2 linked regions of the Homo sapiens genome follow. The main gene of each other region encodes a partner of the protein of the gene in region 2 in a complex. Links are inferred from orthologs where the notes say so. Each region holds a gene or a part of one and is shown on either strand. Other genes may lie near its edges.

Evidence for each region.
Region 1: the proteins of PTMA (region 2) and KEAP1 are in contact, whole or in part, in a crystal structure (PDB 2Z32), measured with the Mus musculus proteins. The link is inferred for Homo sapiens from one-to-one orthologs. Residues at the interface, in NP_032998.1 of Mus musculus: Gln40, Asn41, Glu42, Glu43, Asn44, Gly45, Glu46, Gln47; in NP_001103775.1 of Mus musculus: Tyr334, Ser363, Arg380, Asn382, Arg415, Phe478, Arg483, Ser508, Gly509, Tyr525, Gln530, Ser555, Ala556, Tyr572, Gly574, Phe577, Ser602.

The regions. Positions count from the first base shown.
Region 1 is NC_000019.10:10,489,133-10,504,514, forward strand, and holds the start of KEAP1 (kelch-like ECH-associated protein 1), read right to left. Parts: upstream 14,225-15,382; 5' UTR 14,109-14,224; intron 13,640-14,108; exon of another isoform or gene 13,565-13,639; intron 10,949-13,564; 5' UTR 10,902-10,948; coding exon 10,263-10,901; intron 3,131-10,262; coding exon 2,445-3,130; intron 722-2,444; coding exon 516-721; intron 237-515; coding exon 60-236; intron 1-59. UniProt on the Homo sapiens protein: Substrate-specific adapter of a BCR (BTB-CUL3-RBX1) E3 ubiquitin ligase complex that regulates the response to oxidative stress by targeting NFE2L2/NRF2 for ubiquitination.
Region 2 is NC_000002.12:231,699,641-231,715,850, reverse strand, and holds PTMA (prothymosin alpha), read right to left. Parts: upstream 7,327-16,210; 5' UTR 7,145-7,326; coding exon 7,100-7,144; intron 4,504-7,099; coding exon 4,432-4,503; intron 4,327-4,431; exon of another isoform or gene 4,243-4,326; intron 3,965-4,242; coding exon of another isoform or gene 3,962-3,964; coding exon 3,868-3,961; intron 3,409-3,867; coding exon 3,335-3,408; intron 3,048-3,334; coding exon 3,000-3,047; 3' UTR 2,300-2,999; downstream 1-2,299.

The sequences.
Region 1 (15,382 bases), on a different chromosome or scaffold from region 2:
CAAAAGCAGTCCACAAAAGATGGGCTAGTCAGGACTCTTCCCCGCCCCCAGGGCCTCACCAAGGACGTAGATTCTCCCCTGGTGGACAGTGATCCCCAGGGCACTTCGCCGGTGCTTCATGGGGGCTACGAAAGTCCACGTCTCTGTTTCCACATCGTAGCGCTCCACGCTGTTCAGCTGGTCCTGACCATCATAGCCCCCAGCAGCATAGATACAGTTGTGCAGGACGCAGACGCCTAAAGGGCACCATGCAGAGAAGGTGACTCTGGGGGTCTGGCTTTGGGAACCCCAGCCATCACCTCCTTGAGGGAGACCTTTCCTCTCTCCTCTCCCTTCTCACCCTCAGAAATGAAGCGGGGAGAGAGAGAAGCTTGGACTCTATCAGAATCCAGGGCTTCTGTGGTTACCCCAGCATGAGGGTTGCAACAGGGGGTCTCTCCCAGGCCTGGCTCAGTTTCACCCCAGGATGGTAGGGGGTGTTCCTGGGTGCTCCCCTCCCTACCGTCCCCACCCACCTGCCCCGCTTCGGATGGTGTTCATTGCTGTGATCATTCGCCACTCGTTCCTCTCTGGGTAGTAACACTCAGCTGAATTAAGGCGGTTTGTCCCGTCAAAGCCCCCCACGGCATAAAGGAGACGATTGAGGACAGCCACGCCCACCCCGATCCTTCGTGTCAGCATTGGGGCCACCAAGTGCCACTCATCCCGCTCTGGCTCATACCTGCAAGGGCGTAAGAAAAATGGGGACAATGGCCATTATAGCTGACCTTCGTGGAATACTTAAGGGCCAGATACTCTTTTTTTTCCTTTTTTTTTTCCCCCTTAAAGAGACAGGTTCATCCGGCGCGATGGCTCATGCCTGTAATCCCAGCACTTTGGGAGGCCGAGGAGGGCGGATCACCTGAGCTCAGGAGTTTGAGACCAGCCTGGCCAACATGGTAAAAACCTGTCTCTACTAAAAGTACAAAAATTAGCTGGGTGTGATGGCAGATGCCTGTAATCCCAGCTACTCGGGAGGCTGAGGCGAGATAATCACTTGAACCTGGGAGGCGGAGGTTGCAGCGAGCTGAGATCATGCCACTGCACTCCAACCTGGGCAACAGAGCGAGACTCCATCTCAAAAAAAAAAAAAGAAAAAAAGAGACAGGGTCTTGCTCCGTTGTCCAGGCTGGAGTGCAGTGGTGCAATCACTGAAGCTTCAAACTTTTTTTTTTTTTTTTTTTTTGAGATGGAGTGCAATGGTGAGAGCATGGCTCACTGCAACCTCCACCTCCTGGGTTCAAGCAGTTATTCAGCCTCAGCCTCACAAGTAGCTGGGATAACAGGCACCCACCACCACGCCCGGCTAATTTTTGTATTTTTAGTAGAAATTGGGTTTCGCCATGTTGGCCAGGCTGGTCTCAAACACCTGACCTCAAGTGATCTGCCTGCCTCAGCTTTCCAAAGGGCTGGGATTATAGGCATGAGCCACCACACCCAGCCTGCAGCTATCAACTCTTGGGCTCAAGGAACCCTCCTGGCTCAGCCTCCTGAGTAGCTGGGACTACAGGTGCACACCACCGTGCCCACCTCCACTCGAACTCTAGTGCTTGCAGTTGTTCTCCAAGGATTGAGGTATCAGCAACTCCATTTTCCAAATGACAAAACTGAGCCTCCTAGCCATCAATTGCTCAAGTTCAAAAACACATCTGATAAACCCCTAGTGGCTCAGCCAGATCCCCCACTTCACAGATAACAAGATAACATCTCAGAAAGGAGAAATCACACATTCAGCATCACTCTTTGATGCTCAAAGAGTCCTTTAGGTCCGGCACAGTGGCTCACACCTGTAATCGCAGCACTTTGGGAGGTTGAGGTGGGAGAATCCCTTGAGGACAGGAGTTCAAGACCAGCCTGGCCAACATGGTGAAACCCCATCTCTACAAAAAATACAAAAATTAACCAGGCGTGGTGGTGGGTACTTGTAGTCCCAGCTACCCCAGGGTCTGAGGCAGGAGAATCACTTGAACCTGGGAGGCGAGGTTGCAGTGACCCAAGATGCACTCCAGCCTGGGCAACAGAGCAAGAGAGACAGGGTCTTACTCTATTGCCCAGGCTAGTCTCCTGGACTCAAGCAATCCTCCCACCTCAGCCTCCCAAAGTCCCTGATTATAGGTATGGGCCACAGTGCCTAGCCCAACAATTTCAAACTGATGGAACATTTTCCAACTCCGCACAAAGGAACCATATGGGTTTGTGACAGTCCCCTAAGCATTTCCCAGCCCCAGGCACAGAATCAAAGGTCACTGACTAGAACTCTCCAAGGAGCTTAGCTTCATCCTGAGGCCTCCACTCCCTGAAGACAGGAAGAGGAAACAGCCTCAGGAAGAATACCCGGATCTCAGTGTCTTGGGACTTGCCAGGAGCAGGACCCTCCGAGCCCACCCCCAGGCCCTGCCACTCACCTCTCCACACTGTTGTGGTGGATGCAGCCGTGGGAGCCGCCGACGGCATAGATGTGGCCATCGATGACCCCCACCCCGATGCGGTTACGGGGCACGCTCATGGGGGCGCAGGGCGACCACTGATTGGTCATGGGGTTGTAACAGTCCAGGGCGCTGGAGTCGGTGTTGCCGTCGGGCGAGTTGTTCCTGCCGCCCACGGCGTACAACAGCCCGCCCACCACGCAGCCGGCCAGGCCGCTCCGCGGCACCTGCAGGTCCGCCAACCGGAGCCAGGTGCCGTCACTGGGGTTGTAAGCCTCCAGGTAGCTGAGCGACTGTCGGAAGTAGCCGCCCGCGGTGTAGATCAGGCGGCCCACCTTGGGCGCCCGGCAGGGCATCACCTGCGTGGGCTTGTGCAGGGTGAGCTCCTCGAAGATCTTGACCAGGTAGTCCTTGCAGCGGGAGTCGGACTGCAGGATCTCGCACTTCTGCAGCTGCATCTGCAGGAAGTTCGGCGTCAACGAGTGGCAGCGCACGGCCCGCAGCAGCGCCTGGACGTAGAACCGTCGCTGTTCGCAGTCGTACTTGACCCAGTTGATGCAGGCGTGGAAGACCTCGGACTCGCAGCGCACGTTCAGGTCGTCCCGGCTGATGAGGGTCACCAGTTGGCAGTGGGACAGGTTGAAGAACTCCTCTTGCTTGGCCACCTGCAGAGGGCGACAGTGGGACGGGCTGACTCTCCAGTCACCCCCACACCTCACCAAGCAGGACCGGGACAAGTAACTTATCACTGCCGCTGACAGTCTCAGCTTCCTTATCTGCTAAATGGGGATTCAAATAATAGGAACCGCGTACATTGTGATGACTAAATGAGTTAATCCTGCCGGGCGCGGTGGCTCACGCCTGTAATGCCAGCACTTTGGGAGGCCGAGGCTGGCGGATCACGAGGTCAGGAGTTGAGAGACAAGCCTGGCCAATATGGTGAAACCCCATCTCTACTAAAAATACAAAAATTACCCGGGTGTGGTGGCACACGCCTCTAGTCCCAGCTACTCGGGAGGCTGAAGCAGAAGAATCGCTTGAACCCGGGAGGCGGGAGGCGGAGGTTGCAGTGAGCCGATATTGCGCCACTGCACTCCAGCCTGGGCGACAGAGCAAGACTCTGTCTCAAAGAAAAAAAAAAAAGAGTTAATACTATGTGCCAAGTATGTCATCAGGACTCAGGAAAATGGGCAAAGACTCAGTAGATCGTGTACCCTGGGGTATCATTTGGCTTTGGTTTTTGAGACAGAGTCTCACTCTGTCACCCAGGCTGGAGTGCAGTGGCATGATCTAGGCTCACTGCAACCTCTGCCTCCCAGGTTCAAGCAATTCTCCTGCCTCAGCCTCTCAAGTAGCTGACATTACAGGCACCTACCACCATGCCCCGTTAATTTTTATTTTATTTTATTTTATTTTGATATGGATTCTTACTCTGTTGCCCAAGCTGGAGTGCAGTGGTGTGATCTTGCTTCACTGCAACCTCCGCCACCCAGGTTCAAGTGATTCTCCTGCCTCAGCCTCCCAAGTAGCTAGGATTACAGGAGTGTGCCTCCAGAGCAGCTAATTTTTTTTTTTTTTTTGGAGACAGTCTTGCTCTGTCGCCCAGGCTGGAGTGCAGTGGAGCGATCTCCGCTTGCTGCAACCTCCGCCTCCTGGGTTCACGCCATTCTCCTGCCTCAGCCTCCCGATTAGCTGGGACTACAGGCGCCCGCGACCACGCCCAGCTAAGTTTTTTTGTATTTTTTTAGTAGAGATGGGGTTTCACCGTGTTAGCCAGGATGGTCTCGATCTCCTGACCTTGTGATCCACCCGCCTTAGCCTCCCAAAGTGCTGGGATTACAGGCGTGAGCCACCGCGCCCGGCCATTTTTTTGTATTTATTTTTAGTAGAGACGGAGTTTCACTATGTATTTTTAGTAGAGATGGCATTTCTTCATGTTGGCCAGGCTGGTCTCAAACTCTTTTTTTTTTTTTTTTTTTTTTGAGATGGAGTCTCGCTCTTTTGCCCAGGCCGGACTGCAGTGGCGCTATCTCGGCTCACTGCAAGCTCCACCTCCCGGGTTCACGCCATTCTCCTGCCTCAGCCTCCCGAGTAGCTGGGACTACAGGGGCCCACCACCGTGCCTGGCTAATATTTTTTGTATTTTTAGTAGAGACGGGGTGACTGTGTTAGCCAGGATGATCTTGATCTCCTGACCTCGTGATCCGCCCGCCTCGGCCTCCCAAAGTGCTGGGATTACAAGCGTGAGCCACCTCGCCTGGCCAGTCTTGAACTCTTGACCTTAGGTGATCTGCCCATCTCAGCCTCCCTAAGTGCTAGGATTACAGGCGTGAGCCACCGGACCTGGCCTGTTTTTGCTTTTGAGACACAGTTTTGCTCTGTCACCTAGGCTGTAGTGCAGTGGCACAATCATAGCTCACTGTAGCCTTGAACTCCTGGGCTCAAACGATCTTCCCACCTCAGCCTCCTGAGTCGCTGGGACTACAGGTGTGTGCCACCACGCACAGCTAATTTTCATATTTTTATGGTAGAGACGGGGTTTCACCATGTTGGCCAGGTTGGTCTGGAACTCCTGACCTCAAGTGGCCCACCCCCTTGCCTTCCAAAGTGCTGGGATTACAGGCATGAGCCACCGTGTCCGGCCGTTGGTCTTAAACTCTTGAGCTCAAATGATTCTCCTACTTCAGCCTCCTGAGGATTACAGGTGTGCATCACCATACCTGGCTTGGCTTTTTTTTTTTTTTTTTTTTTGAGATGGAGTCTCGCTCTGTCGCCCAGGCTGGAGTGCAGGGGTGCAATCTCGGCTCACTGCAAGCTCCACCTCCCGGGTTCACGCCATTCTCCTGCCTCAGCCTCCCGAGTAGCTGGGACTACAGGCGCCCACCACCACACCCGGCTAATTTTTGTTTTTGTATTTTTAGTAGAGACGGGATTTCACCGTGTTAACCAGGCTGGTCTTGAACTCCTGACCTCAGGTGATCTGCCTGCCTCGGCCTCCCAAAGTGCTGGGATTACAGGCCTGAGCCACCGCGCCTGGCCTCTGAGTTTTCTGTTTGTTTCTTTTTTTTTTTTTTTTGAGATGGAGTCTCGCTCTGTCGCCCAGGCTGGAGTGCAGTGGCACGATCTTGCCTCACTGCAAGCTCTGCCATCCAGGTTCATGCGATTCTCCTGCCTCAGCCTCCGAGTAGCTGGGACTACAGGTGCCCACCACCATATCCAGCTAATTTTTTGTATTTTTAGTAGAGACGGGGTTTCACCATGTTAGCTAGGATGGTCTCGATCTCCTGACCTCGTGATCCGCCTGCCTCAGCCTCCCAAAGTGCTGGGATTACAGGCGTGAGCCAACGCGCCCGGCCTCTTTTGTTTCTTTTTTTTTTTTGAGACAGAGTCTCACTCTGTCGTCAGGCTGGATACAGTGGCGTGATCTCGGCTCACTGCAACCTCTGTCTCCGGGTTCAAATGATTCTTCTGCCTCAGCCTCAGCCTCCTGAGTAGCTGGGACTACAGGCACGCACAACCACACCCGGCTAATTTTTGTATTTTTAGTAGAGATGGGATGTCTGAGTTTATTTTTTAAGAGACAGGGTCTTGCTCTGTCACCTATGGTGGAGTGCAGAGGTGCCACTGTAACCTCAAATTCCTGGGCTCATGTGATTCTCCTGCCTCAGCCTCCCAAAGCACTGAGATTATACGCACGAGCCAACTCACCCATCTTGTTTTTTAAAATGAAATCATTTTCTAAAATGGCAAATAGACTAAAAAAGGAAAAAATAAGCAATCACAATAGAATGTTGTGGAAAAAAACAAGTGACAGCTCTGGGCCAGCACAGTGGTTCCCACCTGTAATCCCAGCACTTTGGGAGGCCAAAGCAGGCGGATCACCTGAGGTCAGAAGTCCGAGACCAGCCTGGCCAACACGGTGAAACCCCGTCTCTACTAAAAACAAAAAAATTAGCCAGCTGTGGTGGTGGGCACCTGTAATCCCAGTTACTGAGGAGGCTGAGGCAGGAAAATCGCTTGAATCCAGGAGGCAGAGATTGCAGTGAGCTGAGATTGTGCCACTGTACTCCAGCCTGAGCAACAGAGTGAGACTCCATCTCCAAAAAAAAAAAAAGTGGAAGCTCCGAAGAAACCAGCATGAGTTGGAATTTTGATCCGACCACTTCGTAGGTGTGTAACTTGGGCAAATCTCTGAAATGCTCCATGTCTTGGTTTTCCTCCTCTGTAAAATGGGATTATATTAATGGCCACCTCAAAGTAAGGCTACTTCTAGGGTATACAGAGCCCTGGATAAATATTTCTTGTAGCCAGGTGTGGTGGCTCACGCCTGTAATCCTGGTACTTTGGGAGACCAAGGCGGGAAGATTGCTTGAGCCCAGGAGTTTAAGACCAGCCTGGGCAACATAGCGAGACCTCATCTCTACCAAGAAAAGATATAAAAATTAGCCAAGCATGGTAGCTCACGCCTGTAGTCTCAGCTACTCAGGAGACTGAGGTGGGAGGATCACTTGAGCCCAGGAGCTGGAGTTTGTGATAAGCAGAGATCGTGCCACTGAAGTCCAGCCTGGGTGACAGAGTGAGACCCTGTCTCTAAAAAAAGAAAAAAAAAAAAAAAAGGCCAGGTGCGGTGGCTCACACACGTAATCCCAGCACTTTGGGATGCCAAGTCGGGCGGATCACTTGAGGTCAGGAGTTCAAGACCAGCCTGACCAACATGGTGAAACCCCATCTCTACAAAAAATACAAAAATTATCTGGGCATGGTGACACATGCCTATAATCCCAGCTACTTGGGAGGCTGAGGAATGAGAATCACTTGAACCCGAGAGGCGGAGGTTGCAGTGAGCCGAGATCATGCCACTATACTCCAGCCTGATGACAGAGTGAGACTCTGTCCCCCACCCCCAAAAAAAAAAAAAAGGGGGCTTGGCGTGGTGGCTCAAGCCTGTAATCCCAACACTTTGGGAGGCTGAGGTGGGCGGATCACGTGAGGTAAGGAGTTCCAGACCAGCCTGGCCAACATGGTGAAACCCTGTCTCTACTAAAAATACAAAAATTAGCCAGCGTGGTGGTGCACCCCTGTAATCCCAGCTACTTCGGAGGCTGAGGCATGAGAATCGCTTGAACCCAGGACATGGAGGCTTGCAGTGAGCCGAAATCTTGCCACTGCACTTCAGCCTGGGCGATAGAGCCAGACTCAGTCTCAAAAACAAAAAAGGACTGGGCGGTGGGGGGCGGGCGTGGGCGCAGTGTCTCATGCCTGTAATCCCAGCACAGTTAGGGAGGCCAAGGCAGGCAGATCACCTGAGCTCAGGGGTTCGAGACCAGCCTGGCCAACATGGTGAAACCCCATCTGTACTAAAAATATTTTTTAAAAATTAGCTGGGCATAGTGGTAGGCACCTGTAATCCCAGCTACTTGGGAGGCTGAGGCAGGAGAATTGCTTGAACCCAGGAGATGGAGGTTGCAGTGAGCCGATACAGTGCCACTGCATGCCAGCCTGGGTGACAGAGTGAGACTCCGTCTCAAAAAAAAAAAAAAAAGTTGTCAGGCACTCGTCTATGTAATCAGTTTTAATCTAGTACCCCATGTTCATACAAACACAAGAAAGAAACACTGTATATGTTTCTCCTACTGTATAGACCACTTTCCTAGAAGCTGCAGGCCCTAGGACTAACGCCAGAGAACCCTGGGGCGTCTGATCAACCCCACATGTAACATAGAGGGTAGGAAAGAATCTATCCCTGAAGGAGAGAAATAGAGATCAGTGTAACATCCATCCCAGCTGGTACCAGCCAGTGGGGGACTTAGAAAATTTCCAGGAAGGAACACCAAGACATGGGACTCCCGAAGGCTTAGGGCCTGGGGCACTGCCCTGCTTGCCTAGGCTGAAGGGTAGTACTGCCTCATAGGACAGTTGGGAACAGTCAATGATGCAAAGGACATAAATCACTTAGAACAGGGGCTGGCCCACAGCAAGTGCTCAATAAACACTTCTTGGCCTGGTGTTGGTATGGTGCTTCATACCTGTAATCCCAACACTACGGGAGGCCAAAGCCAGAGGATTGTTCAAAGCCAGGAGGTTCGAGACCAGTCTCAGCAACATAGCAAGACCCTGTCTCTACAAAAAAATTTAAAAACTAAAAAATTAGCCATGCGTGGTGCTGCATACCTATAGTCCCAGCTACTCAGGAGGCTGAGATAGGAGGCCTCCTTGAGCCCAAGAGTTGGAGGCTACAGTGAGCTATGATGGCACCACTGTATTCCAGCCTGGGGACAGAGCAAGACCTCATCTCTTCAAAAACTTTTTCTTTTTTTTTTGAGACAGAGTTTCGCTCTTATTGCCCAGGCTGGAGTGCAATGGCGCAATCTCAGCTCACTGCAACCTCCGCCTCCCGGGTTCAAGCGATTCTCCTGCCTCAGCCTCCTGAGTAGCTGGGATTACAAGCATGAGCCACCATGCCAGGCTAATTTTGCATTTTTAATAGAGACGTGGTTTCTCCATGTTGGTCAGGCTGGTCTTGAACTCCCGACCGCAGGTGATCTGCCCACCTTGGCCTTCCAAAGTGCTGGGATTATAGGCATGAGCCACCGCGCCCAGGCTTTTTTTTTTTTTTTTTTGAGACAGAGTCTTGCTCTGTCGCCCAGGCTGGAGTGCAATGGTGCGATCTCGGCTCACTGCAACCTCCACCTCCCCGGTTCAAGCGATTCTCCTGTCTCAGCCTCTCGAGTAGCAGGGACTATAGTCACATGCCACTACACCCGGCTAGTTTTCTTTTTTTGTATTTTTATTAGAGATGGGGTTTCACCATATTGGTCAGGCTGGTCTCAAACTCCTGACCTCAGGTGAGCCACCCGCCTCAGCCTCCCAAAGTGCTGGGATTACAGGCGTGAGCCACTGGGCCCTGCCCTCTCTTGTCAATTTCTATAGATAATTTCCTTCACTGAGAAATGTGAAAACGAAACCAAAAACAGTATAAGGACATTGTGTGGACCAAAGAAAACATGACTAAGGTTCAGACTTACAGCTTGCAGCCTGTCACGGGTGTCCAATAAACATTTGCTGACTGCCCGAAAGGCTGGGCTACCCTAGGATTTGGCTGCTGTTCACTGCACTCTGCCCCACTTTGACCCCAGAGAAACCAGGGAGCCCAGAGACATATGAAGACCTCACCTTCCCCAGCTGTTCACCAGTCTCCCCACATGTGTAGACAAGGAACTCAGAACCCCAGTTGTTTTTTAATTTTTTTTTTTTTTGAAACTGAGTCTTGCTCTGTTGCGCAAGCTGGAGTGCAGTGGCTCGATCTCCACTCACTGCAACCTCCACCTCTTGGTTCAAGCGATTCTCCTGCCTCAGCCTCCTGAGCAGCTGGGACTACAGGCGCCCGCCACCAGGCCTGGCTAATTTTTATATTTTTAGTAGAGATGGGTTTTAGCTATGTGGGCCAGGCTGGTCTTGAACTCCTTACCTCAGGTGATCCACCTGCCTCGGCCTCCCAAAGTGTTGGGATTACAGGCATGAGCCACCACGCCCGGCCCCAGTTGTTTTTTGTTTGTGTGTTTGTTTGTTTAGAGACAGGGTGTCATTATGTTGCCTGGGCTGGTCTTGAACTCTTGGCCTGAAGCAATCCCCCCGCCTCAGCCCCTCAAACTGTGGAGACTACACCACCATACCCAGCCCAGAACCTCCTTTTTCTCCAGTTTCCTGCCTTGACATCTCAAGGGGAGACAGTGATGAGCACTCGTCCATCCCTGGTCCTTCTCCTGACACTGCCCCCAGCCCCACTTCCCCGCTCACCTCCCCAAAATGCATGTAGATGTACTCCCGGGCACGCTGGTGCAACTCCACACAGCCAATCTGCTCAGCGAAGTTGGCGATGCCGATGGCATTGCTGGGGTCCAGCTGCTGCACCAGGAAGTCACTGCAGGCACGGACAACGCTGTCGATCTGGTACATGACAGCACCGTTCATGACGTGGAGGACACACTTCTCGCCCATGGAGATGGAGGCCGTGTAGGCGAATTCAATGAGGCGCTCCATGACCTTGGGGTGGATACCCTCAATGGACACCACCTCCATGCCCTGCTCCCGCAGCCCGTTGGTGAACATGGCCTTGAAGACAGGGCTGGATGAGGCCAGCACCACCTTGTGGGCCATGAACTGGGCGGCCGGTGCATCCTGGTACTTGACCTGCAGTGTGACGTCACACAGCTGCTGGCTGAGCCGCAGCTCGTTCATGATGCCAAAGGCCTGCTTGGTATGATCCTCCAGGGTGTAGCTGAAGGTGCGGTTGCCATGCTGGGAGGGCGTCACCTCCGCCTTGCACTCAGTGGAGGCGTACATCACCGCGTCCCCTGCCCCCTCAGGGCACTGTGACTGCAGGGGCAGGAATCGGCAGCAGGCCCCAGCCCCGCTAGGCCTGGGATCTGGCTGCATGGGGTTCCAGAAGATAAGCAACACCACCACCTCTGGCACTCAGGGACCTGGAGGGGAGAGAGCACAGGGCAGAGGGCAGGGGTTGGGACTGGGCCAGCACCTGCCGGGCCTCGTTTTGCAAGATAAAGCAATTCCTAGGTCAGTTTTCCTGCAAAGTAGGTGAAGCAGAATCCATTTGCAAACTTGCAAACTTCCCCGACCTGATCAACCTGATTGGCCCAAGAGCCCATCTTAAAACATACATGAAGTCATGTCTCTCCCCTGCTCTGGATCCTCCAATGCCTCCCACAGTACCTAGTAAAACTGAACTCCTCAACAGCCTGCAAAGCCCTACGCAATTAGCCCCTGCCACCTCTTCCCTTTGATCACTCTGCTTCAGCAATCTGGCGGCCTTTCCCTTTCTAGAGCATGTTGAGCTCATTCCTTCATTTGCCTCACCATTTACTGGGCACCTACTGTATGCCAGGCACTGATCTGGGTGCTGAAGACACAGCAGTGAGCAAAATACAAAAATCCTACCCTGCCAGAGCTGACAACTGCAGGGAGGAGCAATCATAAACTAAAATAAGCAAGACCTGGAAAAACAGCTTCATGAAGAAAATTACAACAGCATTGTGACAACGTGAGAATCGGGTGCAGTTTGTTTGCTTTTTTTTTTTTTTTTTTCAGATGGAGTCTCTCTGTCACCCAGGCTGGAGTGCAATGGCTCGATCTTGGCTCACTGCAACCTCCGCCTCCCGGGTTCAAGCGATCCTCCTGCCTCAGCCTCCCGAGTAGCTGGGACTACAGGCGTCCGCCACCACACCCGGCTAGTTTTTGTATTTTTAGCAGAGACTGGGTTTCGCCATGTTGGCCAGGCTGGTCTCAAACTCCTGACCTCAAGTGAGCCGCCCGCCTTGGCATCCCGAAGTGCTGGGATTACAGGCGTAAGCCACCATGCCTGACCCGGGGTGCAGTTTTTTAAAATCTGGCAGACCAAGCCTCTTTGAGAAGGTGAGGTTGGAGCTGAGACAAGGATGAAAATTATTATAAAGTGGGAGGCTGGGGAGTAGTTTTCCAGGCAGAGGAAACAGTAAGTGCAGTGGCTCAGAGGCTGAGACAGTCAATCTGGAGAATTGGGAAGGAGTGCAGTGAGAGCTAAGGACTTAAGGAAGGGTTTCATGGAAACCCCTGGATCCTGGAGGGCCAGGAGATGAGTTATGTGTTTTGTGTTTTGTTTTTCGAGACAGAGTCTCGCTCTGTTGCCCAGGCTGGAGTACAGTGGTGCGATCTTGGCTCACTGCAACCTCTGCCTCCCGAGTTCAAGATATTCTCGACCGGGCGTGGTGGCTCACGCCTGTAATCCCAGCACTTTGGGAGGCCGAGGCAGGCGGATCACAAGGTCAGAAGATCGAGACCATCCTGGCTAACATGGTGAAACCCCATCTCTACTAAAAATACAAAAAAATTAGCCGGGTGTGGCGGCGGGCGCCTGTAGTCCCAGCTACATGGGAGGCTGAGGCGGGAGAAAGGCGTGAACCCAGGAAGCAGAGCTTGCAGTGAGCCGAGATCGCACCACTGCATTCCAGCCTGGGTGACAGAACAAGACTCCATCTCAAATAAAACAAAAAAAAGATATTCTCATACTTCGGCCTCCTGAGTAGCTGGGATTACAGGCACCAGCCACCACGATGGGCTAATTTTTTGTATTTTTAGTAGAGATGGGATTTCACCATGTTGGCCAGGGTGGTCTCAACCTCCTGGCCTCAAGTGATCCCCCTCCTCGACCTCCCAAAATGCTGGGATTACAGGCATAGGCTGCTGTGCCCAGACGTGAGTTACGTTTCAAAAGGAGTGGGGGATCTCCAAGTGGCTCCCCACAAGTGGATCTGCAAGTTCTCACTCCCCTCTTTCTGGGACTCAACTCAAAGTCTCCTCTTCCCTGTTTTATTGTCATCACTGCGCTTGTCAGGAACTGAAATGACCTCCTTTGCTTGTCTGTTGATCGACTGTCTCTCGTCCCCGGCCCCAGCGCCTCAAATGGCAGGGAGACCTATGTAGGTCGGCGTCGGGCCAACCCTCTCCTGTGCCTCTCGCCTGGGGCCTGGCACTGCGCAGGGGTCAATAAACGGGTGGTTGGCTAACTGCCCTGCCACCGTGCCTGCCAGAGCGGCCTCCTCCACCCTCCCTGGGTGCCACTCGGCCCCCACTCTGGTGCCAAGGCCCTGGGTTTGCCTCTTGGTCTTTGGCCAATCGGTCAACAATGCCCCTTGGGCACCGGGCACTTCCCCCACCCTACAAAGCGGCAAGTGGGCGACTGCGCATGCCCCTCCTGAGCCTCCACCAGGCCCAGTGAGGCGAGGAAGTGACCCCACCGCGGCCTCTCGGCTGCCAACCCCAGAACGCAGATCGAGCCCCTCAACGCCTCGGAGCCCCCGGGCCTCCTTCTGCGCAGCGCCTCCTGGTTCTCTCGCTCGGTTTCCGCCGCTCCCGGGCCACCCCAAGAGTTGCGCCGTCCAACAAAAATATCCACCCAGGTCGCGCCCTCCTGGCCCTCCGAGTCCTGGCGGGGAACTCGGAGGCGCCCTGGGCCGTGGCGCCCGTTTTCCTGGTCTCCGGGCACGGCCGCAGGGGCGCTCGCGGCCCGCGATGCCCGCAGCCCGGGCACATCCCGCCTCACTCACCCCGCCATGGCCGCGCTCCGGCTCCGCCTCCACCGCCCGAGCCCCGGCGCCTCCATCGCTGCGCGTGGGGGAGGCGCGGAGCGCGCGCAGGTCACCATGACTAAGCAGAGCCGGGCGCCCGCCGTGTCACAATAAAAGTCCCCGGGCCCTGGCCTCAGGCGGTAGGGACCGCTGAGGGGCCGCTCCCCACCCCCGCCCACGCCTGCTGTCGCCCAGCTGCGCGGCCACCACGGCGCCCAGCATGGCGGCGGGGCGGGGGCACGCGACCCTGAGCGCGCTTAGCCGCGTGGTCCGAGTCGCGGGGAGTCTGAACCCCGAGTTCCAGGCCTGCGCGCCCCGGCCCGCACCAGGGGTGGGGTGGACACCCCTCCCCGTCGCTGCTGCCCAAGCGCTCACCTCAGCCCCCAGGTCGCCTCCGTAGGGGGTCCCTCGGGGTGGGGATGGCCGGGGCGCGCAGGGGCTCCGGGCACAGTGATGCCACCCGCGCACTGCGCTTCCGGGAAGCCGGGGGACCGCGACCCAGTCCAGGAGATTCCTGCCTTACCTTGGCTGTAGGGGACCCGCGGGCGCCTCCGCCGTCGGGGGGCCTCGGCTCCAGGGCTGCGTGGCCTGCGGGGTCTTGGTTGTCGGTTGGGGAGCGGCCTCGGGACGCCCGAAAAGGAGGCGGGGAGAGGGCGGAAAGGGCGCGGCGGGAAAGGAGCGGCGATTCTCCCGCCCTTCCCGCAGGTGCCCGGCGCCCGTCGGCGAGGAGTGGGGCATCGGGCGGGGGCGCACAGCCAGGCCCCCCTTCTCACTGTCCCTTCCATCTCCCGATTTCGTTGCTGGATGTCTCCTCGCGGGGCTGCGCGCCACCATCTGCTATTCTCCTTTTAACAACGCACAGCGCCGGCCTCGTGGTCCGGCGGCCGCAGGATCTAGGGAAAATTATCTACCTCGCTAGGTTTTCTTTTCTTTTCTTTTCTTTCTTTCTTTCTTTTTTTTTTTCCTTTAGAGACAAGGTCTCGCTCTGATCTGCACGCCCAGGCTGGAGTGCAGTGGCGCAATCGCGGCTCACTGCAGCCTTGAGCTCCTGGCCTCAAGCGATCCTCCCACCTCAGCCTCCTGAGTAGCTGGGACCACAGACAGGCGCCACCACACCCGGCTAATTTTTAGTTTTTGTTTGTTTGTTTGTTTTTCTGTAGAGATGGGGTCTCGCAATGTTGCCCAGGCTGGTCTTGAACACCTGGGTTTAAGAGATCCTGACTCCATTGGCCTCCCAAAGTTCTGGGATTATAGGTGTGAGGCGCTGTGCCCAGGCCTCAGGTTTTCCTTGTCTTTTTTTTTTTTTTTTTTTTTTAATTGAGACAGAGTCTCTCACTGTCACCTGGGCTGGAGTGCAGTAGCTCGATCTTGGCTCACTGCAACCTCCGCCTCCCGGGTTCAAAAAATTCTGCCTCAGCCTCCCGAGTAGCTGGGATTACAGGCGCCCGCCATCATACCCAGCTAATTTTTTGTATTTTTAGTACAGATGGGGTTTCACCATGTTGGCCAGGATGGTCTCAAACCCCTGACCTCATGATCCGCCCGCCTCGGCCTCCCAAAGTGTTGGGATTACAGGCGTGAGCCACCGCGCCCGGCCTTCCTTGTCTTTATTTTTGATTTACTTCCTATCAAGAGGCGTGTGGCACCCGTCTTTGGGGGGTTCAAACCCTGGATCTGCCTCTTACCAGCTCAGTGCCCGTGGGCGCTTACTTAGTTCTCTATGGTTCAGTTTCCTCTCTATAAAAAGTAATAATATAATAGCACCTACCTACCAGATTATCATTAAGACTAAATGCG
Region 2 (16,210 bases):
AGTGAGAGAGTGTGGAGTCTGCTGAGGCAGTATGGAGTCCAGTGAGTGAGGGTGCATGGAGTCCAGTGAGGGTGCATGGAGTCCAGTGAGGGTGCATGGAGTCCAGTGAGGGTGCGTGGAGTCCAGTGAGGGTGTGTGTGGCCACAGGGAAGCCCAAGACCGTGGAAGAGTGGACCCCTGCTTCCAGCTTTGGTTCCACGTAAAGGACTCAGTCCTTGGGAGAGGGCATCAGTTGCCCAGAAGGAAGGTCTGGGAAATGACCACTGACTGTCACATCTGACTGGGGTTCCAGCAACAGAGAGGGAGAAAGGTCTTGTTGCGGGAGTCAGGTGGAGGGTGACTGGCGTTGCCTACCTTGGGACCAGGGCCCACTGAAGGGTCTTTCCTGGACAGAATTCAGCGGCACGCTTTACAGTTCCTCTGTGTCCACCAGGGGGCGCCCATTCCTTGATAATCTTTTAACCTGGGCTCCAGTGGGAGGTCATTCGGGGACTTTGGGAGTGGTATCAAGGTGACTCTGGGCCCTGAGGTATATCCTCAGGCAGTGGTTAATTGTGTGCTAGGCTCAGGACTAGGGGTAAGTGTGTTCTGCTAGAACCAGCAAATGCTGTTCCAGGCCAAACCTTTGGTGGGATGAGGCAGCTCAGACAGCAGAGGCAGTAAGCTCTGCTGATATGGGTGTCTCAGGGGGACCCTAGCAAGGCAGCCCTGGGCCCTGGCTCATGCCTCATCCTATTGTTCCCATTTTGCAGAGGAGGGGATTGAAGCCCACAAGGTTCAGTTACTTGCCTCATGCTAACATGCCTGCCGTGTCTGTGTGCGGACCAGGGCACAGCTTCTCCCCTTTCAGGGGCCTTGCGGTAGTGGTCCCGAGCAGGACTGCAGCCTGAGGGAGCTGGGTTAGATCTGCTCTCAGCTCCAAGCGCTACCTGCCCTGTGTGGCCTTCCTTCACGGCCTTCGCCTGCACTCCTGCCTTAGAGACACCCTCCTGGGCGCCGAGCTTGGGAACACTGCAGTACTGAGTCGCCTTGGGCGGCAGAACAGAGAGGAGCCAGCGTTTTGGCTCCAGACCCTCCCTTTCTTCCCTGGATGAGCCAGGATGCAGATACCCAGGCTGTGCAGGGGGTGTGGGGTAGATACAGGTCAGAGGGTCCCTCCTACCAAGGCCTCAACCTGCCCCCGATCCTGGTGGCAGCTGCCTGGGGACATGCTGAACAAGCGGCCTGAGCAGCCCCATGAGAGTGACTAAGCTCCAGCCAGAGAAGGGAAAGGTCCCCCCAGAACTCTGGTGCCTGGTGTGAAACACAAAGGTCGGGGGGGCATGGAATGGGGTGGACACGGTGTCAAGGGGCAGGTAGAGGGAACTGGTCTCTCTTGCTCTCTTCAATGCACACATTTCCCTCCTTCCCAGCATCTCCCCTTAACCCAGGCCAGGCCTCTGCAGACACTTCAGTCTGCTCCTGGGAGTTTTCCTGCAGATACCACTGGATGGCTTCCTCAGGTCCTACCTGGGCAACAGGCCCACTAGCAGTGCCTATACCGGCCCCTGCCCCTGCAGCTCTCATTGGAGGATCCCAGAAGGTTCTAGGTGAGCTCTAATCCTTACCTCCACCTCTGAGGGCACGAGCTGGTGGCACTTCCTCCAGTTGGCTATCCTGACCCACTGCTCACAGCCCGTGTATGAATATCCAAACGGCACAGTAACTTCTCCAACTGTGTTCAAGGGGCAGGGTGGGCCTGCCCAACTAACCTAAGGGACCTGGAGACCAAAGGTTGGATGACTGCCAGGCTGCACCAGTGCCAAACCAAAACCCCGGCATTCTAAGAGGCCGGGGGGTACCACGTGCCACCAGCAGGGGGAGCCACGTCATGGAGCTAAACCTGTGAGGCCTGCAGAGGCAGCCACCACTTGGACGCTCATCCTGGGAGGCTTGGCAAGTTCCCTCTTGGCCTATACCACCAGCACCCTGCGCTCCACATAATGGCAGTCCCGTGTGGCCCGTTTCCAGTGTCTAGGACTGCAAACCCCCACCCCCAGGGCACCAGGGTCCCCATGTGGCACCCAGTGATGAAGTCCTCCTCCCCAGTTAAGGCTTCTTGGGGCAATCACTGACTGCCCCAGTGAGCAGCCCCCCCAGCCAACTGCAGCTCAGTCCCTGCCCACCCACCAGACTCTGCTGCCCATCACAGGACACATCCAACTGCCTCCCAAAATGTCAACCCACTGTCCCCAGGATCCTCCCCCTCCTATCCTTGTGCCCTGGAAGGTCTGAAGAAACTGAAACAGAAAAACCAGGCTTGAGACAGCTTTGTTAGAACAACTCAGCAAAATAAAATTCCTGTTTATTGTTGGACAACATTGTTTCACACATACATCAAACAGGCCAAAAAAAATAAACAGCAACTTCATAGACAAAAAAGGAAAAAAAAAGAAACCTTTTATCTTTGGCCTTTTTAACCATCTCATACAAACCAACTACTTATAGTACAGCTAAGTACATACACAAAAAAGTTACTGGAATGCTCGGAATAAGATTGTTTTTCTGTTGTCATTTTTGCTTTTTTTACAAGGTTTTTTTTCTCCTTTGAGATTATAATGAACATGGTCACACCACAAGTAAAGTCAGAAGTAGGACAGAGAACGCTCCGAAGGCTGGTTTGGTCATCCGAGATCATTAAAAATGGCTGACCCTAACAATATGTACAAAAATATAAAATGTAAATAAAAAATACAAACAAATTTCCTTTTTAAAGTACTTTTAAGAAAAAAAGCAGGGCCTTGGAAGTTTTGGTTCTTTTTTCCTCCCCTGTTGCAAATTCTCATGGTTTGGGTTGGGTGGTGGAGAGCGCGTGTCATCTGCGGGTGGCACTGCCCACGGTGGGCGGGCGGGCCTCTCTACTCGAAGGTGACCACGTTTAGATTCTGAGACGGGAAGTGGAGGGTGAATAGGTCACGGCGGCCTTTTTTTTTTTAGTTTAACTTTTCCTTTTTTGCTGTCTAGTCATCCTCGTCGGTCTTCTGCTTCTTGGTATCGACATCGTCATCCTAAGCAGAGAAAGACTGTCAAAGGCCCCTCCAACCCCAGGAGCCCTATCCAGCCCACTGCCTCAGCTCCTGCTGGCAGAGCAAGAACCAGGGACCCCCAGCTCCACAGCCCAAGGCCTCTGGGAAGTTGAGCCCAGCCCTGTTTCCTTCCTGTTCTTAAGATTCAGGACCACACAGTGGCCACCTACAAAGTCAGAAACAGTCCCTCCGCAGCTTGAGCACCTCAGCTAAAGGCAGGTGGGGAGACCCAGATGCCAAACCCCCCTTCTTCTCAAGCCAGAACCCACCTCATCATCTTCAGCTGCCCGCTTGCCCGTAGCTGACTCAGCTTCCTCATCTTCATCTCCATCCTCTTCCTCACCTGGAGAGAATCAAAGGCCAGGTAAACCACACTTCCCTCCTACTGTGGCTCCTGGGGAAATCCCGAGGAACATGTAGTGGACTGCAAGGTCCCTGCCCTGCCTCTACTGCCTGCAACTGGGCCCAATCAGGGCACCCACGCCCACTACACAGGTGGGACTCTCCAGAGGAGAGAGGCCCAAGCAGCTGCACCCCAAAAGGCCAGCCCAATAGATCAGTGGCTTTCAGAGCTGCACGAAAGAAACTTTCAGGTGTGCGAGTGAGTGTGAGTGGGCATGGGCACAACTCCATGTCAGGGAGACCTTCCCTGACTCTACAGGTGGGTGCCCAGGGCCATGTGGTCCACTGGCCCCAAGTACCATTGTCCCACTCCCAGGAGCCCCAATTCCTTCCTTCCCCTTCTGCCAGACAAGGCCAGGAAAAAGTACCTGAAAAGGGGAAGATAGACAAGGCTACTCACCATCACCTTCTTCTTCCTCCTCCTCTTCCTCCCCACCTTCTTCCTCTTCTTCGTCTACCTCATTGTCAGCCTCCTGCTCCCCATTTTCCTCATTCTCCTCGACAGAAAACAGGCCATGTCATTACCAGCTGGCCCCAGGCTGGACAGAGCGTTGCTCCTGATGCCCGGCCTCCCACCAGAGGCTGGCGGCTGCATCTACAGCCCAGCCAAGCCAAGCCCACCCCAGAGACCCTTCTCCAGTCAACACCCTCCAGGCTCCATCATGAAACCTGCACATTAACTGCCCCAGGACAAGGGCTTTTCCCCACCCTGGGCCAAGCCCAAACTCAGACTACCGGAGTCTCCTCTGAACCTATTCTTGTTCAGGCGCTGCTCGAAAGGTTTTTATAAATATTTAACTAGCAATAATCGCGCCTCGGGTAAAGCTCATTGGCTACGATACTGCCACTGTGCAAAGCTATACATATACACATACACACACATATATAGGTATGTTTAAAGTAGAACAGGAAAAATTTTGTGGGGCGGTAGCTGCCAGGGCTCAGGAGCAAAGCAGACACTCACAGCATTCCCGTTAGCAGGGGCGTCTCTTCCATTTTCTGCCTCTTCCACAACTTCCTTCTTCTCCTTTAAGTCCTTCAAAAGGGAAGAAGGAACCAGTAACCAGTAAGTCTTCTGAGCAACCCAGGGTAAGCAAAGGCGCTGAGAACTACTGGTCTGTACGGCTGTTCTGTCCGTCCCAAATTAAGAGTCGCATGTTGAGAAAGGCCTGATGCCCCTGCGGTCCCTCTCCCACTGGTCTGGTGGAAGGAAGGCCGGCGGGGGGCATCTGTGATCAAGGTTTCCCATCCTTTAAGGCCCGCTACAGCGGCCCCGGTGGCGGTTCCCACTGCCCCCTGGCGCTTCCCAGGAAAAAGGAGCCATGTGGCGCCACAGCCCCCAGCCCGTCCGGCCGGGTGGACGAGCCCCGGACACTCACGCCCATCAGCCTGCTTCCAAGTGCAAAGAGCCCGCCCCTCGAGCCGTCTAGAAAGGCGGCAGGTTATGTTCCAAAAATAAATAAGGCAAAGAGAGAGGGGCCTGCGCTCGGGGAGAGCCCCACAGGCGCGCCAGCCTGGAAGGCCCGCGAGGCCGCACCGCCCCGGCCAGGACAGGTATCTAAAAAAGCCAAAGCACACCGACCCCCCAAATCCGACCGCTGTTCCTAGAGGCCGCAAACCGCTGCTTGGCGGTGCCCCAGGCCGGGGCCTGCCGCCGGAGCCACCAACTCCCGGCCTCCCCGCGGCGGCTAGGGATCCCGACAGCACCTCGGGGGTGGGACTCCGCCCGGGATCCAAAAGGCAGCGCGGCCCCGGGCGCCCGGTAACTTTTTCCACACGACACGGCCACCAATACCAACAGAGGTCCGGCGTCCGGGCCTGCGGGAACCCCTCGGCCGCTGTCCGGCGAGCGGCTCCGGGCCACCTGTCGGCCCTCTCAGTCCGGCCCGCCCCGCTCCGCTCCGCGGACCCCGGCTCCGCCCGCTCTCGCCCCCTGGCGGCCGAAGCCCCGGGGAGCAGTGGGGGCAGGGAGGTCGCGGCGCGCAGGCGCGCATCCCCCGCCCGGCGGGCTTTGCGCGCGGGCCTCGGCACGCACCGCGCGCAGGGAGCACGTGGCCCGGGGCCGCCGAGTGCGTCCCTTGCCTTGGAGACTCCCGGCCGGCAGGCAGAGCTTGCAGTGGCACGCGCGCGGGTCGCGCGTCGGTCGGCCGGGCTCTCGACTCGACGCCCCACTGCCGCCACCCCGGCAGGCCCGAATGTCTGCATTCGGCGGGCCAAGTCCCACGGGAGGTCGCCCCAAAGTCCACCGGGCTGCGTAGGTCCGAGACTGTCGGGGATGCGCCTCTCGGGCTACTACTCATCGCCCTCGCGGGAAGTCACCTTTTGGTGCTTCGGAGAAAATCGAACAGCCAGGCCCCGCACTGGGGACGGTGTTCTCACCCCACAAACTCATTCCCGGACTGAGTCCAGAAGGGGTCACTGAGAGCCCCTGTGGAGATCCGGGCCCCGAGCTCCGCTCTGCCAAGAAGTCGCCCCTGGGAGAGTCAGAGATGACGCCAGGGACACAAGGGTTAAGGAGACGCCAAGGTGACTCGCGCCAATCCCTGCAGGGGCACGACGGGCGCGGACGAGGGCCGAAATATTAAGAAAGAGCCAGTCAGTCTGAGAGCGCCCCGCTCCCGCCAAGGGCGGAGACGCTACCCAGGGCGGGCAGTGGGACCGAGGCGGCGCCGACAACAGGAGCGGAGCCGCACCAGCCGCGCAGGACCTCATAGCCGAGGGCAGTGAACCCGCCACGGGGCCCGGGCGCCCCCCCAGTTCGACCCTACCATTGGCCTGTCGCGGCCGCCGTGTTGGCCCGCGTCGCCCCGAGCTGCGGCGCACACGGTGCTCCCGGGCAGCCGCGGGGGGCGCCCATCGTCGCCCCAGCGCCGCGCTTCACTTTCTCTTTCCTCCCTGCGGCGCGTGGGCTCTCGCCTCCTCAGCCAAGCCCGGCACCGCGGGTGCATGACTGAAGCTGGGCGGCCGCTCCCGGCGCACTCACCTCGAAGGGCGCCCACCCCCGCCTCCCAGAGCGCCCAAAGCGGATAAGCCCGTCACACCTCCGCCGGGACGGCCGACGTCGCGGCCAGCCAGCCCGTCGCCCCATCCGCCTTATCGGGACTTAGTCTAGACAAACCACCTCAGGTCCGCTGCAGGGCGCGAAACCGCCGGCCTGGCGCCGAACAAAGAGCAGCGCGGCCGGCGGGCGCTCGCCGCCACTTCCCGCGGCCGGCCCGCGCCCCAACACGCGCCCCCCAGCACTTCCGATTCCCAACGCGCTTGAGTTTCAAAGTTATTTCCGTGCGCCCGGCGGGCCGACGACCCCCAGCCAGGCTCTTCTCCTCCCGCCGCCACTCATACCGGCCACAGACGAGTTTCGAGGGCCGTGAGCCGGCCTCCGCGCCTAGCCCTCGGCCCCCGAGGGCGCCCGGCCCACTCCCCGACGGGCATCACGTCTGCCCGCGGCGGTTCCCGCCCCCTCCCCCGCACCACACAAAGAGTGGGCTGCCTGAGGGCACCGCGCCGGGGGCGGGCCGTTTCCCCGCGAGAGGGAGCAACAGCGGGCTTGAGACAGTCCAGCTGCTGCGCGCCAAACACCGCCCGAGCGGCGGCGCGCGGACCCCGAGGGGGCGGGCGGCGTCCAGCCTCACCTTGGTGGTGATTTCGGAGCTGGTGTCTACGGCTGCGTCTGACATGGTGGGGCACGCCGGTGATCCGATGCAGGGGATTAAAAAGAAAGCGAGAGTTCAGGGACTCTGGCGATAAAGCTGCCGGAGTCCGCGGCGGCGGAGGAGGCGCGCGGCGGAGGCGGCTGCGGCGAGCAAGGAGGCGGATGAGGAACAATGCAAAGATGGCTTTTCAGAGCAGCCAGTGGGGGACTCACGCGGCGCCAGAAGCTTTAATATAGATTAGTGGGCGGCGCTCGGCTTCCCATGCCCGGCCGCTATTGGCTGAGCGCAGGGAGCGGGCGCTCGCTCATTGGCTCGATTCCGAACAATGGACAAGCGTGCTTAAAGCGGCAGTGCCCCGGCGCGTCCCGCGCTGCGCAGTCGCCGATCGCACTGTCATTCAAGGCCGGAGTTTGCCGGGTCTCAGCAGGGCCGAGGGCGCGGGGGAGGGGTGCGCGAGCGCGTTCCGGACGCGCGCTCCCGCAGCTGTTTTGCTGGGGCTGCTGACGCAGAAAGCCAAAGCGCGGCAAAGCTGCCCGCCCAACCCCCTTCCCTCCCTCTCCCGCCCTCCCCGCGGCTGCTCGGAAGGAGGGGGAGGGAAGAGGGGGCGGCGGGCACACGACGGCTGCCAGCGCGGGGGAGGGGAAGGCGGGGTGCTGGGCCGCGCTCGCCCCGGGCGGTGCCCAGCGCAGTGCCCGCGGAGGTGCCCGCCCCCCGCGCCTGGGCGCCTTGGACCAAGGATTGTCCCAGTGCAAGTGGACGGCAGCCCCACGACGAGCAACGAGGTCACGAGGCCGAGACCCGGGCACCTGGGCCGCCCCGTCCCTCTGCCATGCCCTCGCGCCCTCCCAGGGCAGGGCACCCCTAGTCCTGTGGGCAGGCGACCTCGATTGCCCACCATCAGGTCCGGCGTCCGTCGGCCAAGTCAGTCGACAAGCGGGCACCGTCCCAAGCACACACGGATTCATGTATCAAGCGGACTCGATGCGCGATGCCGGCTCCAGCCCTCGAGTGGGACAGCCCGCGGGCCCCGCACGGCATAGCGGTCCCCTCATTCTAGGTTTCTAGTTAGGGTCTGTCCCGAGCGGTCACTGCCGTCGCGACAGCCTCAGGGCAGCCTCCTCCAGGGGCCTGCCGGGCCATCGAGTCTACCCTTCTCCCACCCCACTGCTGGACTGCGATGGGCACATGAACATTACAGAGTTCCTCGGGAAAAATCATCGTCTCTGGAGCCAGTTGGGCTAATCTTTGGGGACTACCTGAAATTTGGGGGACCATTTAGAGAACCATGCGGAGCCCCGAGAAAGGGGAGCATCAAAACGCCACACTCAAGATGGCGCCGGGCTCGGCAAGCGTGGCGTGACGTAGCGATCTAGCTCACGTGGGCGATCCGAGAACAACAGGCTACGCTGGCCTTATCGCCACCGCACTTAGCTGTCGAACTAAGAAATCGGTTGTGTGGGAAAAAGGACCAGAATAGGTGGAAAGATAGTCCAGAAATTTACCTGTGCCACACACAAGATGGCGAGACGTAGGGTTCGTCCCTGTGCTGCCAAAAGGGGGCGCCCGACACGGAAGGCGGGACTCCGGAGACACGAGCGCACATTGGCCGAGAGTGGCGGGCGAACACAAAGTTGACGCTTTGCGTCCTTCCATTGGCAGTTTCTTCCGTCTGTCTCTCGGTTGCAGCCGAGCTGGGAATGGGGAAAACCCGGAGTGTGGGATCGTGGAGGGCGGACGATGCCAAGTCCAGCAGAGCTTGCGCTCGGGGCTAGAAGAGAGACTGAGTCTCCCTTCTCAGTTTCATTAGGTAATGGGCGACATGGCTCCGTCTCCACAGCGGGGCTTTGCTGAGCTTAGCACGCAGTCTCCCGGCGGGGAGGAGGCGCGCAGTGCCGGGCGCCACTCCGTCTCCAGTACGCGTTAGGCCCGCGTTCCCAGGTGCCCGTCTGGCCGCTGGACTGTTGGCCTTTCCGGAGCGAGTTTTACTTTAGGAAGAAGCCCGGGATCCCGGTAGTTTAGCCTGAAGAAACGTGGGGCAGATGCTGGGCAGGGCGGGGATACCGCGCCAACACCCGCTGCCCAGCGGTCGCCCTCCTATGCAGCGGCGAAGGGACGCCCGCTGTGTCTCCGCCCTGCCCCCAGGCGCCCCAGTGGCTGGAGGTGGCATTCTCCACTGGACGGGCGCGCCTCAATCCGGGGGACTTCCACAGTGCTGTTCCCGAGGACTACGCGTCTCAACTCTTTGTCGGGTTCCCTCCCTCCCACTGCCAGTCTGTCTTCACCGCCGCGCAGACCTGGGGCCGCCCTTCACAGAGGAAGGGCTCCTTGACCTCAGCCACCGTGACCCCCTCCTTTGTGTCACATTCTCAGAGAGTTGGAGGGATTATGCGTCATCGTAAACAGGGGGACAGAGCGCCTTCCACCTGCGGCGCATCCATTAAGTTCCAGTTACCCTCGAGAGGATTGTTTTTTCCACGAAACCCAGATGCAATGAGAGCCTGGCTTGTACCATCTCTAAGCATCGAGGCTTCCCCCTCGTCTGGGTGGTGGCCTTCGGGCAGTGGCTCCGGAAAGGCCATCAAGGCTTCCCCGTCGTCTGGATGGTGGCCTTCGGGCAGTGGACTGTGTCCATAGCTGAAAACCAGACTTGACAGTTCTGGATTCAGGCTGTTGTGGGAGCGGGAAGGTCAAACACCCAGAAGGAACTGATGAATGTGAATTTCCCTCTAAGAACTGCTTTGCCTGGCCGGGCGCGGTGGCTCACGCTTGTAATTCCAGCACTTTGGGAGGCTGAGGTGGGTGGATGCCGAGGTGAGTGGATCACGAGGTCAGGAGTTCGAGACCAGCCTGACCAACATAGTGAAACCCCCGTCTCTACTAAAAATACAAAAATTAGCCGGGCCTGGTGGCGTGCGCCTGTAATCCCAGCTACTCGGGAGGCTGAGACAGGAGAATCGCTTGAATCCGGGAGGCAGAGGTTGCAGGAGCTGAGATCACGCCATTGCACTCCAGCCTGGGCAACAGAGTGAGACTCCATCTCAAAAAAAAAAACAAAAAAAGAACTGTTTTCTGACGTTATTCCCATGCAGGTGCCTTTGCTAGAAGTGGGTGAGGAAGGCTCATGCCCATCTGGTTCCAGAACCACCACTTAAATTTCCCAAACACTCACTGAATGCCCGCTGTGTACATGGCAGTGAGCCTTTGACTCATGCTTCATTTTCATGTACAAGGTGGGTAGGACAGTTATGGAGTTGAACCATATGAAACTGATGTCTATGTAGGTGAAAACGAACTGAAAATCAACACATTTACAGGTTCAACTTCTGATATAACCCTCCTTTTAACAAATCAAAAAAGCAAACCTAGAGATTATAGCAAGGGACTTGGAGTTACCCACTGGATCAATGATGGAGCCGAGGCTAAGTCCTAAAACAGAGGAATCTGCATTTTTAGATGAGCCCTGGGGCAGAAGTTGCCCCCATGGACCTCCCTCTCATCCCAGGAGTGTGGTATCTGACAGCTCATAGTGGGGGAGTTATTTAGGCTATGAAGAACCGTGTTCCTTCAGCAACAGGTAGCTCCCTACCTCTTTTGCTGTTTCTTTTTTTTTTTTTTTTTTTTGAGACAGAGTCTCACTCTGTTCAGCCCAGGCTGGAGTGCAGTGGCGTGATCTCAGCTCACCACAACCTCCGCCTCCCGGGTTCAAGGGATTCTTCTGCCTCAGCCTCCCGAGTAGCTGGGACTACAGGCGTGCACCACCATGCCTGGCCAATTTTTGTATTTTTAGTACAGATGGGGTTTACTATTTTTGTATTTTTAGTACAGACGGGGTTTCACCATATTGTCCAGGCTGGTCTCAAACTCCTGACCTCATGATCCGCCCACCTCGGCCTCCCAAAGTGCTGGGATGACAGGCGTGAGCCACCGTGCCAGGCTTTTTTTTTTTTGAGACGAAGTTTCACTCTGTTGCCCAGGCTGGGGTGCATTGGCATGATCTTGGCTCACTGCAACCTCCGCCTCGTGGGTTCAAGTGATTCTCCTGCCTCCCTCAGCCTCCTGAGAAGCCAGGATTACAGGTACCTGCTACCATGCCCAGCTAATTTTTGTATTTTTAGTAGAGACGGGGTTTCACCATGTTGGCCAGGGTGGTCTCAAACTCCTGACCTCAAGTGATCCGCCCGCCTCAGCCTCCCAAAGTGCTGGGATTACAGGCATGAGCCACCACACCGGCCCTCTTTTGCTGTTTCTGAACAGACTATTCTTCCTGTCCTCTGTCACTTCCACTCATTGATACATCTCATGCCCTTTGTTATTACAGAGGAAGTCAGGCACTTTGGTGACCTTGCCCTTCAAACCCCCCAAGACAAGCTGGTGTGCCCTGGTAAGCCTGCTTTCCTGACCCCAGCCTGAGATACAGTGGGCTTCGGCTAGAGCTGCTGTGAGCAAGGGACCCAATATGTCCTCCAGGCATGTTTTGTTTTGTTTTGAGATGGGGTCTTGCTATGTTGCCCAAGCTGAACTCCAACTCCTGAGCTCAAGCTATCCTCGCACCTCAGCCTCCTGAGTAGCTGGGACAACAGATGCTTGCTACTGTGCCTGGCTTGTTTTGGGGGAATTTTCACAGGGACACCTCTGGGTGGTCTACACACTGTCCACATGGCCCACAGGCCTCTCCCCGCCCAGCCTGAGTAACACATTGATTTCATCTGCCTGGCCCTGTGGGCACTTCAGTTTGCAACTAAGCCTGCTCCTAAAGCCATTTACAACATATTTCTAATTGGTTATCTCACAAATCTGCTTGATCCCCAAAAGATCAGGCAGAATGAATTTTTAAGCTGCCTGGGTTCAAATGGCAGCCCTGACATACACTAGCTTTGTGAATTGGGCAAGTTACTTTCTCTCCTCTAAGAAACAGAGAGGACGGCCAGGTGTGGTGGCTCACACCTCTATCCCCAGCACTTTGGGAGGCCTAAGCAGGAGGATTGCTTGAGCTCCGGAGTTGGAGACCAGTCTCGGCAACATGACGAAACATCGACTCTAAAAATTTTTTAAAAATTAGCCGGGCATGGTGGCATGTGCCTGTAGTCCCAGCTACTCAGAAGGCTGAGGTGAGTGGATTGTTTGAGTCCAGGAGGTTGAGGCTGCAGTGAGCCATGATGGTGTCACTGTACTCCAGCCTGGGCAACACAGCAAGACTCTGTCTTAAAAAATAAAAAATAGGCCAGGCGCTGTGGCTCACGCCTGTAATCCCAGCACTTTGGGAGGCTGAGGCGGGCGGATCACGAGATCAGGAGTTCAAGACCAGCCTGGCCAACATAGTAAAACCCCATCTCTACTAAAAATACAAAAAATTAGCTGGGTATGGTGGTGCACGCCTATAATCCAGCTATTCTGGAAGCTGAGGCAGGAGAATCACTTGAACCCAGGAGGTGGAGGTTGCAGAGCCAAGATTGCTCCATTGCACTCCAGCCTGGGCAACAGAGCAAGACTCCGTCTCGAGAAAAATAAAAAATAATAATAAATTTAAAAATAAGCTGGGTGTGATGGCTCACACCTGTAATCCCCGCACTTTGGGAGGCCAAGGCGGGCAATCACCTGAGGTCAGGAGTTCGAGACCACCCTGGCCAATGTGGTGAAACCCCGTCTCTACTAAAAATACAAAAATTAGCTGGGCGCGGTGGTGGGCACCTGTAATCCCAGCTACTCGGGAGGCTGAGGCAGGAGAATCGCTTGAACTCGGCAGGCGGAGGTTGCAGTGAGCCAAGATGGCACCACTGCACTCCAGCCTGGGTGACAAGAGTGAAACTTCTTCTCAAAAAATAAAAAATAAAAATAAAAATTAAAAATAAAAAAGAGAGGCCGGGCATGGTGGCTCACGCCTATAATCTCAGCACTTTGGGAGGCCGAGGCAGACTGATCACGAGGTCAGGAGTTAGAGAACAGCATGGCCAACATAGTGAAACCCCATCTCTACTAAAAATACAAAAATTAGCCAGGCATGGTGGCGCGTGCCTGTAGTCCCAGCTACTCAGGAGGCTGAGGCAGGAGAATCACTTGAACCCGGGAGGTGGAGGTTGTAGTGAGTTGATATAGCGCCACTGCACTCCAGCTTGGACAACAGAGTGAGACTTCATATTAAAAAAATAATAAAAACAAATAAAAAAGAGAAGACAATAATAGTTCCTACTTTGCAGGATTATTGTGAGAATTGAATAAGTTAATATTCAGAAAGTGCTTAAAATAGTGTCCGACACATTTGGGAAACCACTGCACCCCATTTTCCAGCTGCTATCTGTACCTAAGTGGGTTGGCTTTACAGAGCTTGTAGGACTCTGGACAAAGGAACAATGTCTTCAGCAAGTTCTTTCCGTATTCAGTGGGAAATGAGGGCACTGGCCTCTCTAGTTTCTGGAAGCCTGTGATTTGGTGCCCGACATGCTTGGCAGCCCCTCTGGCCTCAAAGGCATGACAGAGTCTGGGAGGCAGGTGGAGTGGAGCAGGTCTCAAAAAATCCCGCCTTCCAGCCCTTCAGAAACCCAGGAGTTTCAGACTGTGGTTTCCTTATCCAGGCATAAGGGCCTGGGGAGCTGCCAGGAGCCTTTCTACCCTCCCGCCTTGCGAGCCTGGCTGGGATTGTGTAAGAGCCCCCAACGCCTGCTCCCTCAGCACGCCCAGGCCTGCCCATTCTCCTGGGGAGCTGTGCCAGAGACCTGGCTCCTGGTACTCACACAGGTCTGGCCACCCTGGGAGGTTCCTACAGGGAGAGGGTGGGAAATGTCTCTTAATGTTCCAGGCCTGTCCCCAAACCGATGCCAAGGCCTGTGGGGCCCGGGCATGAGCATAGGTAAGGAGGCTGGGAGAGGTGAGTGTGCAGTGTGCACAGACGCCACTGCCCCCGGACAGCAAAAGGCCATCGTGCCAGTCCTTGACTCCCTGTACACATGCTCCTTCAGATCCCTCCAGGAATCCTCTGCCTGCCTGTGTCACTTCCTGGCTCTCTTCCCTGGATCCCTCCGTGTGTGTGCACCTATTTGCATAGCTCGAGTTCCGTGGGTGTTTTGCTGAAGTTCCGGTTACAGTTCGTGAGTGGGTGGGCCCAGCAGCACGGCAGCAGGGAAAGGTGCTAGTTGGGGGAGCACATGAGCAGGCACACACCTGGGCACCCTACCTGTGAATGCCCACAAGAGCATTGCACCCGAGGAAAGGTTGGACACCACTATGTGACTTCCTGCTGCGCGGCCCCACATGGGAGCCCGAAGACCAGGAGGCCCAAGTAGGCCCTGAGGAGCGTCTGTGTGCCCGTGCCAAGCAGGAGGCCAAGCCCTGATAATCGTGAGGGTGAGGAGGGCAGGCTCTGCGACATCCTGACACTTACTCTTTCCCCTTCTCTGTTAATTTTTTTTTTTTTAAGAAGGAGTTTCACCCTTGTTGCCCAGGCTGGAGTGCAATGGGGCAAACCAAACTCAGCTCACCGCAACCTCTGCCTCCTGGGTTCAAGCAATTCTCCTGCCTCAGCCTCCTGAGTAGCTGAGATTGCAGGCATGCGTCACCATGCCTGGCTAATTTTGTATTTGTAGTAGAGACAGGGTTTCCCCATCTCAGTCAGGCTGGTCGTGAACTCCCGACCTCAGGTGATCCACCTGCCTTGGCCTCCCAAAGTGCTGGGATTACAGGCGTGTGAGCCACCGTGTCCAGCTCTTTTTTTTTTTTTTTAGACAGGGTCCCACTATGTCACTGAGGCTGGAGTGCAGCAGCACGATCTCAGCTCACTGCATCTTCTCTGTTCATCTTAAACAGGTCTTTTCTACCTTCCCTTCTCTGGCAGAGAATCTCCCCACCTTGTTTGGGGAGAAAGGTGTAAGGAGCAGAGGGCAGAGGCGAGGGGAGGACACACCACCAACTCGGACTGGCTCACCCTCCTCCTACCACAGGGAGCTACGGACGACGGGTGACCGACAGTCCCTGTTTGACTGAGGGATTCCCAGGATGCAGGACTCTCAGTGCCACAACTAGAAAAACTCCTGGGCAAACTGGGACATGTTGCTCATACTAGTTCACTAGTTCACTCCTTATCACATACTGGGAACATTTCTTTTCTTTTTTCTTTTTTTTTTTTTTTTTGAGACAGGGTCTCTCTCTGCTGCCCAGGCTGGAGTGTAGTGGCGGCGCAATCTCTGCTCACTGCAGCCTCAACCTCTTGGGCTCACGTGATCTTCCCACGTCAGCCTCCAAGTAGCTGGAACTACAGGTGCGCACCACCACACCCAGCTAATTTTTTAATTTTTCATAGAAACCGGGTTTCCCTATGTTATGCAGGCTGGTCTCGCACTCCTGCCCTTAAGTGATCTTCCTGCCTCAGCCTCCCAGAGTGCTGGATTACAGGCGTGAGCCACTGTGCCCGGCCAAAGAATGACATTTCTCAAGAAATCTGTAACCACCACCAAGACCATGAGTCCCTGTGGCCCTCCATCCAAAACCAGCCTCCCACTGAGATCCATCTCTCTTTGCCACAAGAATCCAGGGTGACAGAGCTACAAGGACACCGGGAGCATTTGGATTTCACATTGCAGAGTCGGGGGATTGAAGGGCTTAGGTAGATCACAGAGCGAGCTGGTGCCCAGGATCAGGACCCCTCGGGAGGGCTCTCAGCTGCCTCCAAGGTAAGGTTCGCTAATGAGGTCCAGAGCATGGAGATCCGTTCCTTTCTAGCTCCCGGCAGAGCAAGCGTCTCTAGAAGGGGAAGAGATTTCTCAGGCTCCTTTCAGAAACATTCTTTCCTCCAAGACATTTTCTGAGAATCTCACAGGAGGAATCTCACTTGAACAATTCTATAGGAAAACCTCAAAATAGGATGCAGCATCACCCAGAAGTGAAGCCTCATCAGGGAGGGGAAGGCAAGGTGGGCGCCTTTCCAGGAAAGCTCGAGTCCCATGCACATGTGAAGTCCGAGGGGAAAGCTGCCAGTCAGCACCTGGACCGAGAGCTTCCCAAGCTGTCCTCAGCCTCAGTGAGTTCTCCCGAGCCTGGCAAGTTGTGGCCCGACCTTGAATTGTGGTCATTTACGGCCCCTTCCAGCATCTTTCTCCTGGT